Linked DNA regions of Homo sapiens. The protein of the gene in region 4 interacts with the protein of the main gene of each other region in a pairwise test. Each region holds a gene or a part of one and is shown on either strand. Other genes may lie near its edges.

The links. The genes of interacting proteins can lie anywhere in the genome.
Region 1: the proteins of RANBP9 (region 4) and ENTPD1 interact in binary tests that used the Homo sapiens proteins (3 or more experiments, as listed by UniProt).
Region 2: the proteins of RANBP9 (region 4) and MKLN1 interact in a two-hybrid assay, tested with the Homo sapiens proteins (2 studies listed by BioGRID).
Region 3: the proteins of RANBP9 (region 4) and SMAD9 interact in a two-hybrid assay, tested with the Homo sapiens proteins (one large-scale study listed by BioGRID and IntAct).

Annotation. Positions count from the first base shown.
Region 1 is NC_000010.11:95,871,143-95,874,605, reverse strand, and holds part of ENTPD1 (ectonucleoside triphosphate diphosphohydrolase 1), read right to left. Parts: 3' UTR 1-3,463.
Region 2 is NC_000007.14:131,446,356-131,450,016, forward strand, and holds part of MKLN1 (muskelin), read left to right. Parts: intron 1-3,661. UniProt on the Homo sapiens protein: Component of the CTLH E3 ubiquitin-protein ligase complex that selectively accepts ubiquitin from UBE2H and mediates ubiquitination and subsequent proteasomal degradation of the transcription factor HBP1.
Region 3 is NC_000013.11:36,913,598-36,917,258, reverse strand, and holds part of SMAD9 (mothers against decapentaplegic homolog 9), read left to right. Parts: exon of another isoform or gene 1-480; intron 481-3,661. UniProt on the Homo sapiens protein: Transcriptional modulator activated by BMP (bone morphogenetic proteins) type 1 receptor kinase. SMAD9 is a receptor-regulated SMAD (R-SMAD).
Region 4 is NC_000006.12:13,705,238-13,708,898, forward strand, and holds part of RANBP9 (ran-binding protein 9), read right to left. Parts: intron 1-3,661. UniProt on the Homo sapiens protein: May act as scaffolding protein, and as adapter protein to couple membrane receptors to intracellular signaling pathways. Acts as a mediator of cell spreading and actin cytoskeleton rearrangement.

The DNA.
Region 1 (3,463 bases), on a different chromosome or scaffold from region 4:
AAGGCCACAGTCCCAGAACGGTAGACCCCAGAATGGTAGACCCCAGAATGGTAGATCAACCACCAACTTGCATCTTGTGCCTGGAAAAGCTACAGACACTCAACATCAGCCTGAGAAAGCAGCCAGGAGGGAGGCTGTACTCTGCAAAGCCACAGGGGCGGAGCTGCACAAGACCATGGGAACCTATCTCTTGCATCAGCATGACCTGAATGTGAGACATGGAGTCAAAGGAGATCATTATGGAGCTTTAAAATTTGACTGCCCCACTGGATTTCAGACTTGCATGGACCCTGTAACCCCTTTGTTTTGGCCAATTTCTCTCATTTGGAACAGCTGTATTTACCCAATACCTGTACCCCCCATTGTATCTAGGAGGTAACTAGCTTGCTTTTACAGGCTTGTAAGTGGAAGGGACTTGCCTTGTCTCAGATGAGACTTTGGACTGTGGACTTTTGGGTTAATGCTGAAATGAGTTAAGACTTTGGGGAACTGTTGGGAAGGAATGATTGGTTTTGAAATGTGAGGATTATGAAATTTGGAGGAGCCCAGGGAGGAATGATATGGTTTGGCTGTGTCCCCACCCAAATCTCAACTTGAATTGTATCTCCCAGAATTCCCACATGTTGTGGGAGGGACGCAGTGGGAGGTAATTGAATCATGGAGGCCAGTCTTTTCTGTGCTATTCTCGTGATAATAAGTCCCACAAGATCTGGTGGGTTTATGAAGAGTTTCTGCTTTTGCTTCTTCCTCATTTTGCTCTTGATGCCACCACGTAAGAAGTACCTTTTGCCTCCCACCTGATTTTGAGGCCTCCCCAGCCATGTGGAACTGTAAGTCCAATTAAACCCTTTTTGTTTCCAGTCTCAGATATGTCTTTATCAGCAGCATGGAAACGAACTAATACAATCATAGTTTTTAAAAACCAATCTAAATGTAACTATTGAACATGATTAGCTGTTTCATCCCTAGTAGAGTGACAGAAGGAAACATCCATAGACAGGAGTAATAAGAAACCAGCTAAACTTCTAAACCATTTTTAAAGGATGCGTGTGAGCTGGCATAACCTACCTACTCTTTCCTATGGGCCTCTACTGAGAGCATGGAGGTAATACATCTAATACACTGAAGACCAGGGCAAGAGAGCTGGAAGAAATCCCTCTTAAGCACTCCAGGCCTTCACTGAGTATGAGGTGCTGGTCTCCAAAGGCAGAGGGCAAGGCAAGGCAGAGAGGGATCTCCTGGGGCACAGACAACTGACAAAAGAAACACTTGGATTGTTGTATAAGAGGAGTGAGCTTTGTAAATACCACGTTAGCTGGCCTGCTGTGGAACAGAATGCCTGTGAATGACAGTAGTCAGGTAGTGGATGAACACTGATCTGAGAGCCTGTAAAAGAAACTCTTTGGAATGATAATGTCATCTAGACCTTTGATACGCAAAGTGTGATTCCTGGACAGATGTATTGGCTTTACCTGGCAGCTTGTTGGAAATGTAAAACCTCAGGCCTCACCCCAGACCTACTGAATTATTTATATTAATTAAAATTAAATAATTTTTATTTCAACAAAATCCCTGGGTAATTTGTATGTACATTAAATTTTGAGATGCATGATCTTTTAAGGTTCATTCTAATCCTTAAAATTCTGTTTTAATAATGTGTACAATGAAGTGCTGCATGGCAAACTACACAGAAACTAAAGGCATGTTCCAAAAAGGAAAAGTTCCATGTGGCTAGGGGAATAAAAGCTTCATCAGGGAACCAGGAGTTGGGCTGGTTCTTAAAACCTGGAGAAAGAAGATGGTTACATCAAGAGATAAATAGAGTGAAGCAGAACTAGTGGTGCGGACCAGCTCGCCAGCAACAGAAGGGTTTGTAGTCGGCCTGGCAGTGGACAGGGAGGTTGGCTAGAACTATTACCTTAGGTCCGTGATAATATCCCTGAATCCAACTTTTCAGAAAGAAATAGGTAACATATTTTTCACCAGGAAGCTTCACCCAGACACTGAACAGAATGGTCTCAGTGCACTAATGGAGGCTCAGTTAAAGGGTTGTGGTAGCACAAGGAAGAGACATTCTGACTTGGAAATTTGGAGAAGGCTTCACAAATGAAGGGGCATTTGAAATGAGCTTTGAAGGTGCAAGAGTATTCCAAGTTGAGAAGACAACCTGAGTGGTGTTGGGTGAACAGTCATTCTACCTGGCTGTAGTGTAGTATAGTGTAGTGTAGTGTAGGAAACATCAGAGGAGTGGAGTGGGATATGAGCCTGGAGAGAGCTGGCGGCCATGGATCATTGAAAGCCTTGAATGTCTGATGGGGAGGTTGACTTTATTTTGTAGGCAATGGAAAGCCACCAGTGGTTTTAGTTGAGCAGCAATGAAATTAAGCCTGTGCTTTGCAAAGATTAATCTAGCAGCAACAGATTGGAAGCAACACCACCATTCCTGGTATCAGTCCAGGTAAAATATATTACAGCTCTTTACTGGAGCAATAACAGTAATATTAGAAGGAGAAATAAAAAAGAAAAATATTGCACAGGCAGAATGGGGAGGTCCCAGTGATGGAGCTGATCTTGGTTCATTGAGGCAGGGGTGGCATTAATCATGTAAAACACAGGAGGAGGAACTGGGTTAGGAGTAATGGTAGAGTTCAGTTTAGGTAATTGCAAATACACACTATTCCCTGACTAGCTCCCAAGACTTTTTCTTCCCTCTCTTCTTAGAACTTCATTAGAAGAGGTGATGTTATTTCTTAGATGAGAGTATCTTACTTACCATTGACTAATACATGTTCTCTGATGAACTTTGCTATTCAACATACATGCAAAGGGGTTATAAAAACAAGTCAACTCTAGTGCTGATGAGGGTGATCATCATCACTGATCATGGTGTCAGTTGATTATAGTGTCAATTTATAACTTAATTTATGTAAAATAGAGCAATGCAAAAGACATAGCAATCTTCACTTCAAATGAAGAGTCTTGAATGCCACTTTTCTAAAGAGAAGGCTCATGGAGGCACCTCCTCACTATTGAAAAATCCATTATACCTGTGATAAAACTGATTGTGTTCAGTTGTATTAGATTTGTATGCAAATAAAAAGTTGGGTAATTAGCTATACATTGTCCTAAACGTATAAAATAAGAAAAATACATAGATGTATGGTTTCCTAGGACATCTACCAGTTTAGAATGCGAGGCTAATGTGGGAGCTGCCACAGCATCCTGATTAAGGCTATGGAAAGAAGTTGCAGACTGATGATGTCTTAGAAGTAATGACATTTTTTAAAGATAATATTTCTTTGGTGAGATAAACAGATTATATTTTACAGTAAACACATTTTATATTTCAGTTAATAAGACATTGTATATTAAATAATCGCATTTAATGCTTTACTTTTTTCCTGTGTTAAAATTAATCACTCATGGCCTTGGCCATATGACTTTGCCATTCCTCCCACTGTTT
Region 2 (3,661 bases), on a different chromosome or scaffold from region 4:
TGGTTTGCTTAGATTATGCATATTGCCCTGGCATAATTATTAATAGTGCTCCATTCATTTTCAAAAGTGTCCTGTTTTGATCATTTATAGTTACCCTACATAGTAGTTGCTTTGCCTGTGATTATTGTACCTAAAAGAGTGGCTTTAATTAAGGTGCAATGGTTTAAAATGCTAATTTGAACAATAGAGTGAGAAATTAAATCAGCTGCTTTTCTTTTTAGCTGTTGCTTATAGATTGGTGTTTTTATTATTGGCTCTTTTGCCAAATGTGGATAAAAGCACTTGTTTCACAGACATTGTTTCTGGATATTTTATTGATTAATACAAGCTTCCTTTAAAACAAAAACAACAAAAATATTTTTAAATTAAAATATTTGTTCACATTTAAGAAGAAAAACTTGTTTTAAAACAAACAAACAAAAAAACAAAAGATAGGCAAGGCACAGTCGCATATGCCTGTAATTCCAGCTAGTCCAGAGACGGACATGGGAGGATTGCTTGAATCTAGGAGTTTAGGACCAGCCTGAGCAACAAAGCAAGACCCTGTCTCTACAAAAAGGAGGTTTCCAGATAAAAGTAGACTCAATAGATATGTTAAGCATTTGGAAGAAAAATCTGTTGATGAGTATAAATAGCATCTAATGTAAAAAACGAAGGATAGGGACACAACAGGAAAAGCGAAACTTTTTATAAAAAAGGAGACATTATCACAGTAAATTTCTTGGCTTTACAGTAAGCAGTATTTCCCTAATCATAATGCAGAACTACAGCCAGTTTAACCAAAAATTGGGATGAAATATAGTGGGAAGATAGTGTAAGTGTAGTAAACATCTTCGTCTATTACAACAGGAAATTAGTAGGTAATGTCTAAAATAGCAGCTTAGCATGTGATTTAGAAATATGGACCTGAATAGGTAATAACATTATTTACCCTATCTAAAATTGTCTTATTTACTCATTTATTTACTGTTGCCATAGGAGAGTGTAGAGCTATATGATTTAATATTTGACTTTCTCTGGCTTTTAAGAGTTATTCTAACTTACCATTAAAATAACTAGGAGGGTCAGGCGCAGTGGCTCATGTCTTTAATCCCAGCACTTTGGGAGGCTAAGGTGAGAGGACTGCTTGAGCCCAGGAGTTTGAGACTAGCCTGGGCAGCATAGTTAGCCCTCATCTCTATAAAATAAAAATAAAATAGCAGGAGAGAGGTAATACTCCTTCTACAATCCTAAGATGGGTCTCCCTGAAAAAGGTAGTGAAGATAGTAATTGATATGACAATATGTTGAAAATTATGGCATGCTGACTCAGTGCTAGACTACGGACACAGTGGATACAAGGCAATCACAGTCTCTCAAAGTGCTTATAATCTAGCTAGTAGGTAATGTATTCCCATGGATAATAATTACTACTCTTTATTTAGACCCTACCATATACCAGAATATCTTTAATTGGTGGTATTATTCTAATGTACAAGATGAAAACAGTTACACAACTACGTAATGACAGAGCTGGGATTTAGAAGTTTGAGTGCAAGGAAGGTGTTTCTGCCATGCTAAACTACTGCCCAAGATTAAAAGAAAAAAGTGGCGGCCACGTGAGGTGGCTTACACCTGTAATCCCAGCAGTTTGGGAGGCCAAGACAGGTGGATCACGAGGTCAGGAGATCGAGACCATCCTGGCTAACGTGGTGAAACCCCATCTATACTAAAAATACAAAAAATTAGCTGGGCGTGGTGGCGGGCGCCTGTAGTCCCAGCTACTCGGGAGGCTGAGGCAGGAGAATGGCGTGAACCCGGGAGGTGGAGCTTGCAGTGAGCCGATATCACGCCACTGCACTCCACCCTGGGCGACAGAGCGAGACTCTGTCTCAAAAAAGAAAAAAAAGTGGCAATGCGTGATAGTGACAGAGAACTAGTAAAATAAAAATTCACCATGACAAGTAGGCTTTAATGACTGTCATTCAAAACAATTTTTTAATGAGTTAAAATTATGTAGTAATGTACAGTATCGACAATTATTCTTCAATCATGGTTATGGCTAGCTTTAGAGCAGTGTGGCAATTATTCTTTTTATTTAATTTTGTTGTGGTCATAAAAGTAAAAATATGCTCATTGTAGAGAATTTGAAAAATAAGATGCAAAAAAGAAAATATGTCAAACTGTCCAGAGATAACTTGTTAAAATTTTGATATATTTCTGTCTAGTCTTTTTAAAACTTATTTATTGTATAAAAGTTGATACAAGTTTGTATTCTATTTTAAAATTTACATTAAATTGTGGGATTTTTTCCATTATTGTGGTTTTATTAATGTGAACTGGAGATGTTATTAGAAAAGACAAATGGATTCATTGTTTGATTACTGCTATAATCAATTTTTCTAAAATCAAAATCACCATTTTTTACTGTGTGTGTTCAGTGTGTAATTGGTTTACACAATTGAATTTTCCCACAATGCAAATAAATTCATTAATAATATTTGTTGACCATCTACTAGCATCTAAGTTTGTCCCTCTCCCTTCCTCCTTCCCTCCCCACTTAGTTCATTGTCTTCTGTAGGCCCAAGATTATTTTAGGCACTTGGGATTCATCTATGGACCTGGAGGATAAGATCCTTTCCCTTAGAGGACTCACATTCTAGTGGAGAGAGACCTGCAGTTGTGTTCTAAGTACTGTGAATAAAATACACTGGATGCCGTGATAATGAATAACAAGGGAAGTCTCATTTAAACAGAGTAGGTTGGGAAACCATCTTTGAGGAGGTAATCTTTAAGATTTAAGATGAAAAGTAGAGAATTAGGAAGAACCATGTGAAGAACTGAGAGAAGAACAAGTACAGAGTTCCCAAAGCAGGAAGGAACCTGGGATGTTCAGAAATAGTGGGACTGGTACGTATTGAGGATTGGAAAAGTTGGTATGAAACTAGGTTAGAGCTACGGAGATAAGAGTCAGAGTATTTAGTGCCTTGTTACAAATGCAAGGAGTTTGGATTTTTTTTCTGAATAAAATAGATTATTCAAAGGTTTAATATCAGTGTCTTGATCTAAGTTTTAACAATACCACTTCTTTGTCTAGGTGTATATTTTCCAAGTGGTTAATTTTGACAATGTTCCTGTGAGTTGCATTGTTCAAAGGCTTGTTTACTGAGGATTTTTATGGCAGGGTTGAGCATCTGGTTAGAATTACTTGGAAAAATTTCCCACCTAAAACTGTTGCAGTTATACTTGGAATTGAGGAACCTCAGTGACTCTGTTAGCACATTAGAGTGAAATGGAAATTATTCTCTTTTTTTCTGTTTTTTTTTCCCCTCATCTCTGCCTCTCTCACTTTCTTCCTTTTCCCTCCTTCCCATTCTTTTTCCCATGTCCCTTTTACTCCTCCCCCAACTTTCTCTCTCCTAGAGGATTCTAATATGCGGCTGGGATTGAGAACCACTGTTCTAGCTCTCCGGAGTCTATTTCAGTCCTTAGTTAACCTTAAGCAAGTTACCTAATGTCTCAGCTTTTGCTTCCACATTTGTAAATGACCCAAATTAGATTTTAAGGAAAATAGCGTCTCTGTCCATGGCTACCCTAGGAGTAGAGATGGGTTAACCCTCTAGTTTCGACTGGTGTTACTGTTGGGTGCCTTAATTTTCACAAGAGGATGTTAATACTGCTAC
Region 3 (3,661 bases), on a different chromosome or scaffold from region 4:
AAATAAATATTCCGGTAAATTTTGTCTCTTAAGAAACTTGTGTCAACTAAAGTTGTTAGGATTTCAAGATATCTGTTAGCATTAGGAGTCATTATACCCATGAAAACTGGATGTTCTTCTTGCTTGGTGGTCTTCATCCTGACACTTCCTACCCCAAAACCATGACGGACACCTCGGCCGCACTTGCCTGACTTGTATTCTGCTCTCCTTTGGTGTCGGCTTCCTTTTGTGTTAGGCTGACCCAAGACCACTTTTCCAGGCTTATCTTCCCGGTCTTTCCCTATTTTATGCTGCAGTTAAAATAGCAAATGCTAGTTTCCATGCATACCCTGGCTTTCCTCTCCTGTGCACCTTTACCCCACGCTGAGGCCTTCCCAGCTTCCCCACCTCCCACAGGATCCTCAAATATGACTTCTTCATCTTGTATGCCCTGTTCAGGCGCTGCCTTCACGGGACTTTCTGTGATGACCCTGGTCCCAGGTATGTCCTCCTTCGAGCTCCTGTGGCTCTTCGCCTTTTCAACTCTTACCTGTTTTGTATTAAGTTACTCATAGACTAATTTATTTCTTCCCCTCAGACCATCCTTACAAGATCCAGGAAGGAAGGGACTGTTTCATCTACCTTTTTTATTCTCTGAATGCTGACCACAGTGCCCTTTATAGTACTCTATCAATAAATAACAAATACATGACACATTTTTTCACTGAACCCATGGTCCCTCCTGAAATAAAGTCTGTAAAAGCATTTCACCCATAGGATAAAGTCCATCTTTCAAGAAGCTGGTGTTGAATCTGAGCTGAGGACTAGTTCAGAGGCCTGAAATCCCCTCAGCCCAGTTGAGAGCCTCCTTCTCCTGAACATTGTGGCTGAGCATTACAGTCAGGAAAAGCTTCTATGATACTCTTATTGCATTAGCAGTTTTCCATATCAGATTCACTAAATACACAATGGAAGCCATTTAGTAGAAAAACAGATTTTAATGTGATACGGCTACCACAATGAAACACTAATGTGATTCCACAGAAAATTGCTAACACGATATGCTGATTCCTCCCCCCACCATAGCCGCATAAAAATTGATACTGTTTTTAATGTATGTGTTTCAAACTATGCTCACAAAAGAAAAGCAGACTGCTACTGAGATGAGCTGCTGCTTTGTTCACGTTGGATGTGTAAAGGGTCTTGTTATCAGCCTCGTCAGGCAGAATCTGCCTTCTGTGCCTTGGTCATTCTATTATCGAACAATACTAACTCTCATTTTAAAATATATCATGTTCTGTGTAACAATCCAGTATTAAAGTTAATATGATGTGAAAAAATAGAATTTGCTTATAAATGTCATGCCCATATAATATATTCAGTTGTACCGTTTTAATTGGGAAGCTCTAATCAGCTCAAAACGCATTTTTCAAGAATCAAAACGACTCCCAATATAAAATTTAAATTCAGAATTTAAAATAAAAGGCATAAATATTAAGGTGGATTGTATATGTGTGTGCACACGGTTGTAACACTTTAGAAGTCATAAGCACTGAAGAGATTATGGTTCTTCCCCCTCATTCCCAGCCCACATTTAATTCAAAGAAAAAAGTTTAACCCAAAGAATAATTGTAAAGGAGACCTATGTAGTTCTGATTTTTTCCTATAATGACAATTTCCAATTCCTCTTTTTTAGATATTAAATATCAAAATCTTCTCTCTCTCTCTCTCTCTTTGTCTCATTCTTTGGTACTCTGATTAGCTGATTCACTGGTGGGGATTATTTTTATGTGAATTTCCCCTTGGGGAAATTTAATACTTAATATCTGATCACTTCCTTTTCTTTTTCATATTTAATTCTGAGGGACTATAAATAGAAAACATGTACTCCTCAGTCCCGAGGAGAGTTTGGTGCTGCAGTTGCGAAAAGCAATCTTCAGTTTACAAGCACTAGGAGTGCCAGGGATGCCCATTCATTCTAGGACTCCAGTTGCCAGTTTTCTATCACTGAACAAAGGAATCTGGATAGCATACATGTGGTCTTGCGGCCATTCAAACGTGTTGGTGACATTGGGGATTCTGAGTTGAGGATTCTGACGACTTAGAGTTTGCAAGTAGTAGAAGTGTGAACACTGTGAGGTAGCCACATCCTGAACTCACTGACCCCAGGAGCACATCCCTAGATACACTGGGCCATTTGCCTTAAATGACTGCTTTAATCTATGGAATATCTTCTTCCATACAGCCTGTTTTTTACTTTTCATCTGTTAAAGTGCTTAGAAGCCTATCAAATACAGATTTACTTTGGTTACTGTGTATTTTGATTTGTTTTCACAAAACGCAATAATTGTGCAATGGTTAATGTCATTCTAAAGGATTTTGTCCTACGTACTTGTGGGCTATGGAAAGCTTACAGCAGATTTGCAGGTCTTTTTTAAGAAGCATTTGATGGATGGTAGCGTTCAACTGAAGTGCCAGGAGTTGCTTTCTGAATTCTTGTATCTAAATTTAACTGACTTGGTAGTACCACATTTCAGGAGTTAATGGTAACGCAGAAAGGGATTCACAGATTCCATCAGTTTCCCACTTTGTGGCAGAATATTTGACATCTCTTATCAGTACACTTCATCATAAGTTCATGAATTCATCTTGCTCCTTTCTTTGCTGAGAATCACAGTGAGAGAATTGGAGTTTGGCTGAGAGGAGGAGTGAGGAAGGAAGAAGGAAGAGTAAGTTTTTTTTTGTTTTGTTTTTGTTTTTTGAGATGGAGTCTCTCTCTGTCGCCCAGGCTGGAGTGCAGTGGCACCATCTCGGCTCACTGCAAGCTCCACCTCCCGGGTTCATGCCATTCTCCCGCTTCAGCCTCCCAAGTAGCTGGGACTACAGGCACCTGCCACCACGCCCGGCTAATTTTTTGTATTTTTAGTAGAGACAGGGTTTCACCATGTTAGCCAGGATGGTCTCGATCTCCTGACCTCATGATCCGCCGGCCTCGGCCTCCCAAAGTGCTGGGTTTACAGGCGTGATCCACCGCGCCTGGCCCGAGAGTAAGTCATTTTAAGGCTTGGGCAGTAGCACTGTTGAGAAGTTTGAGGCACCTAAGTGTGGAAAGAGGGTGTTACAGAAAGCAGATTGGCAGATGCCAAAGGTAGACATCACATATTTGAATTAGTGTTAGTAGTATGAAAGGCACCTGCGTTGTGAGTTGAGAGGATCCTAGTGAGCTGGCCAGGGAAGTACATTAGCACTCATGACATTGTTCTAGGGGAAGGTGAATTCCAGTTTCCAAATAACTATGCAGGATTGAACACCATTTGTTCATAAAGCAAGACCACCAGTGATTGATGATATGGGTGATTATTATTAATGACATAAGTGATTATTAGAAGCCAAGAATGGTGGTAATGAATGTGGAAGATGAAAAATGTGTTAAGCTAAAAAGATTTTAGGTCTCATGTGGTTTTCTTTGTCTTGTTTATGCATTTAGTCATTCTTTGTTTTCTAGTGGAAGTAGAATTTTATTTTTAGGAATAGGAGTTGAATAAAATATTTGTCAAAGACAAACATTTATGGACATGAATGCTTCCCTTTCAGCTTATTGACTATATGTTTACACAAAGCAGTCATTAGGTGTTGGCTGTGTTTGCAAATAATGACAAGTTGGTATTATTTCAAAGGAGTG
Region 4 (3,661 bases):
TACTAAATATACAAAAATTAGCCAGGCGTGGTGGCAGGCGCTTGTAATCCCGGCTACTTGGGAGGCTGAGGCTGGAAAGTCACTTGAATCCAGGAGATGGAGGTTGCAGTGAGCTGACAAAGTGCCACCACTGCACTTCGGCCTGGGCGACAGAGCAAGATTCTGTCTCAAAAAAAAAAAAAAAAAAAAAAAAAAAAAGAATATACATTATTATTGTCTACTGTTCTGCATGATTATTAGATTTACTTGATTCTTGCAGTTACCAACTGGCATTTTTAAACCTAATTTCCCAAAATCTTGGCAAGTAATTCTTCAATTCCTTCATTTTAAGGAACATTTTTAGGCCGGGCGCGGTGGCTCACGCCTGTAATCCCAGCACTTTGGGAGGACGAGGCGCGCAGATCACAAGGTCAGGAGATCAAGACCATCCTGACTAACTCGGTGAAACCCCCTCTCTATTAAAAATACAAAAGAAATTAGCCAGGCGTGGTGGCAGGCGCATGTAGTCCCAGCTACTGGGGAGGCTGAAGCAGGAGAATGGTCTGAACCCAGGAGGCGGAGCTTGCAGTGAGCGGAGATCGCGCCACTGCCCTGCAGCCTGGGCCTGGGCGACAGAGCAAGACTCCGTCTCAAAAAAAAAAAAAAAAAAGAAACATTTTTATATCACCCCCGTAATGCTTAACAGACATTTGCACTTGTAAGCAAGCATGCTGAAATATCTGTTCAAACTTAAAAAGTGCAAGAAATTAGATAAGCAATTATATTTAGGAAGTGTTCAAGCGCTAATGACTGGGGGTACAGGTGGGAAAGACAGAGTAAGTATAACAAAAGTTCAACCTATCACTCCTGTAATCCCAGCACTTTGGGAGGCCGAGGCGAGTGGATCACTAGGTCAGCAGATAAGAGACCACCTTGGCTAACACGGTGAAACCCTATCTCTACTAAAAATACAAAAAATTAGCCGGGCGTCGCGGCGGGCACCTGTAGTCCCAGCTACTTGGAAGGCTGAGGCAGGAAAATGGCGTGAACGCGGGAGGCGGAGCTTGCAGTGAGCCGAGATGGCGCCACTGCACTCCAGCCTGGGCAACAGAGCAAGACTCGGTCTCAAAAAACAACAAAAAAGTTCAACCTATTTGGTTATTGTTCATAACATTTCAATTAAAAAGTGAAATTCTGGCTGGGCACTGTGGCTCACGCCTGTAATCCCAGCACTTTGGGAGGGCGAGGCGGGCAGATCACGAGGTCAAGAGATCGAGACCATCCTGGCCAACATGTTGAAACCTCCCCTCTACTAAAAATACAAAAATTAGCCAGGCGTGGTGGCGCATGCCTGTATTCTCAGCTATTCAGGAGGCTGAGGCAGAAGAATTGCTTGAACCCGGGAGGCGGAGGTTGCAGTGAGCCAAGATGGCGCCACTGTACTCCAGCCTGACAACAGCAGAGCGAGACTCCATCTTAAAAAAAAAAAAAAAGGACAATTCAGGCCAGGCGCAGTGGCTCATGCCTGTAATCCCGGCATTTTGGGAGGCCGAGGCGGGCAGATCATCTGAGGTCAGGAGTTCAAGACCAGCCTGGCCAACATGGTGAAACCCCGTCTCTACTAGAAATACAAGAATTAGCCGGACGTGGTGCTAAGCGCCTGTAATCCCAGCTACTCAGCTACTCAGGAGGCTGAGGCAGAAGAACTGCATGAACCCAGGAGAGGCTGCAATGAGTAGAGATTGTACCACCGCACTCCAGCCTGGACGATAGAGCAAGACTCTGTCTCAAAAAAAAAAAAAAAAAATGCAATTCACTATTTATTTACTTATTTTTTTTTTAAGATAGGGTCTCACTCTGTCACCCAGGCCATCATAGCTCACTGAAGCCTCAACCTCCTGGGCTCAACCAATCCTCCTCCCTCAGCCTCCTAAGTGGCTGGGATTTCAAGTGTGTGCCACTTAGCCCGGTTAATTTTTAGGGGTAGAGACGGGGTCCCACTATGTTGCCCAGGCTGGTCTAGAACTCTTGGGCTCAAGCGATCCTTCTACTTTGGCCTCCCAAAGTGCTGGGATTACAGGCGTAAGCCACCACACCCACTGAAATTGACTATTTCATTGCTTCCTATAATTCCCAACTTTGACTTACCTTGGATTTCTTCTAAACTGTTCTAAATTAGTAAAATCAAGGTGTCTGGACTTTTCTGAAGCACTGTGTTCCAGTTACCTTTTTCCCCCAGAGTAAGTATTTTCAATCTCAACTATTCTTTAAAAGTTCTAAATGTGATCACAGGATTTTATCTACTTGAGATAATTAAGTCTCATATGAACTTAAAGAGGCAATACTATGGGATTGTGAAAAGAACACTAAATCTGGAGTTAGTGAAAATTTTCAATCCTGATTTACTCATGACTGGGAAGATCTAACCTCCAGGTTCTACCACTCTCTAAAATTTAAAATGAAAATTCCAGGATCTTGTCCAGATCCACTAGTGTGTGTATATATAAAGCACTCTATAAAATATCCAAATAGTGGTAATAACTAGAAAAATATAAAAATGCAATCTGTTGTTGAAACATTTAAACTAAGTCCATTGTCATATTTATTAAAATTATTTTCCCGTTATCATTATAACTAAGTCTAAACTTGTCACATTTGTACTTATTCAATACTGACAACAATTTCAAAAATAAGAGGGGCTATCCCTGGGTTTTTCAATAGTTGTTGTGTGACTGCTAAGCAAAAGGCCTTTAAAAAAATTTCACATATACTATACATACCCTGTTGTTCCTCTGCAATCCAATCAACCTTATCTGCATGTCTAGTATTATCTAACATTAATCTCTTCAAATCATTTCAGGAACAATACTGCTTCCAAAAGCAGTAATTTCAATTTAGAAGAACATCTTAAAAACAGAATACAGGCTGGACACAGTGGCTCAGGCTTGTAATTCCAGTACTTTGGGATGCCAAGGTGGGAGGATCACTGGAGCCCAAACATTCAACACTAGCCTAGGCAACACAGTAAGACCCCATCTCCACAAAAAAAAAAATTACAACTTAGCCCAGCATAGTGACAGGAGCCTGTGGTCCCAGCTACTTGGGAGATGGAGGCAGGGGGATCCCTTGAGCCTAGGAGGTCTAGACTGCAGTGAGCCATGATCGCACCACTGCACTCCATCAAGGCAACAAAGTTGAAATCCTATCACACACACATACACAAAAACACCAGAACAACAACAAAAAACCAGAATACCTTTGGAGCAAAAGAAAGCAAAATACTTCTATTTCAAAGATAAGGAAAATTCTCGTCACTCTGGAAAATAATTAAAATCATTCTTTTGAAATTCTGTAATACGTGAATATATGAATAGTAGTTTTTACTGTTAAAAGTGTCTCATGATACTTAGGTAAAACCAATGCAGCACAATGATAGGTTAAATAAAAATTCACTCTTCTTATTCTGTGATTTTAAAGTATTATCTACTCTCTATGATACTTCTCCTTTGCTACTGCTACTGCTACTGGGACACAGTTGCCCACCACAATCGGCGTGGTCCTCTCACAAAACACGCAGAAAATCAACAGTAACAACGGAAAACTCACACACACACACACACACACACACACAGTCTACAGTAACAAGACAAGAGGAAGAGGCAGTAGAAAGGGAAAAAGACTT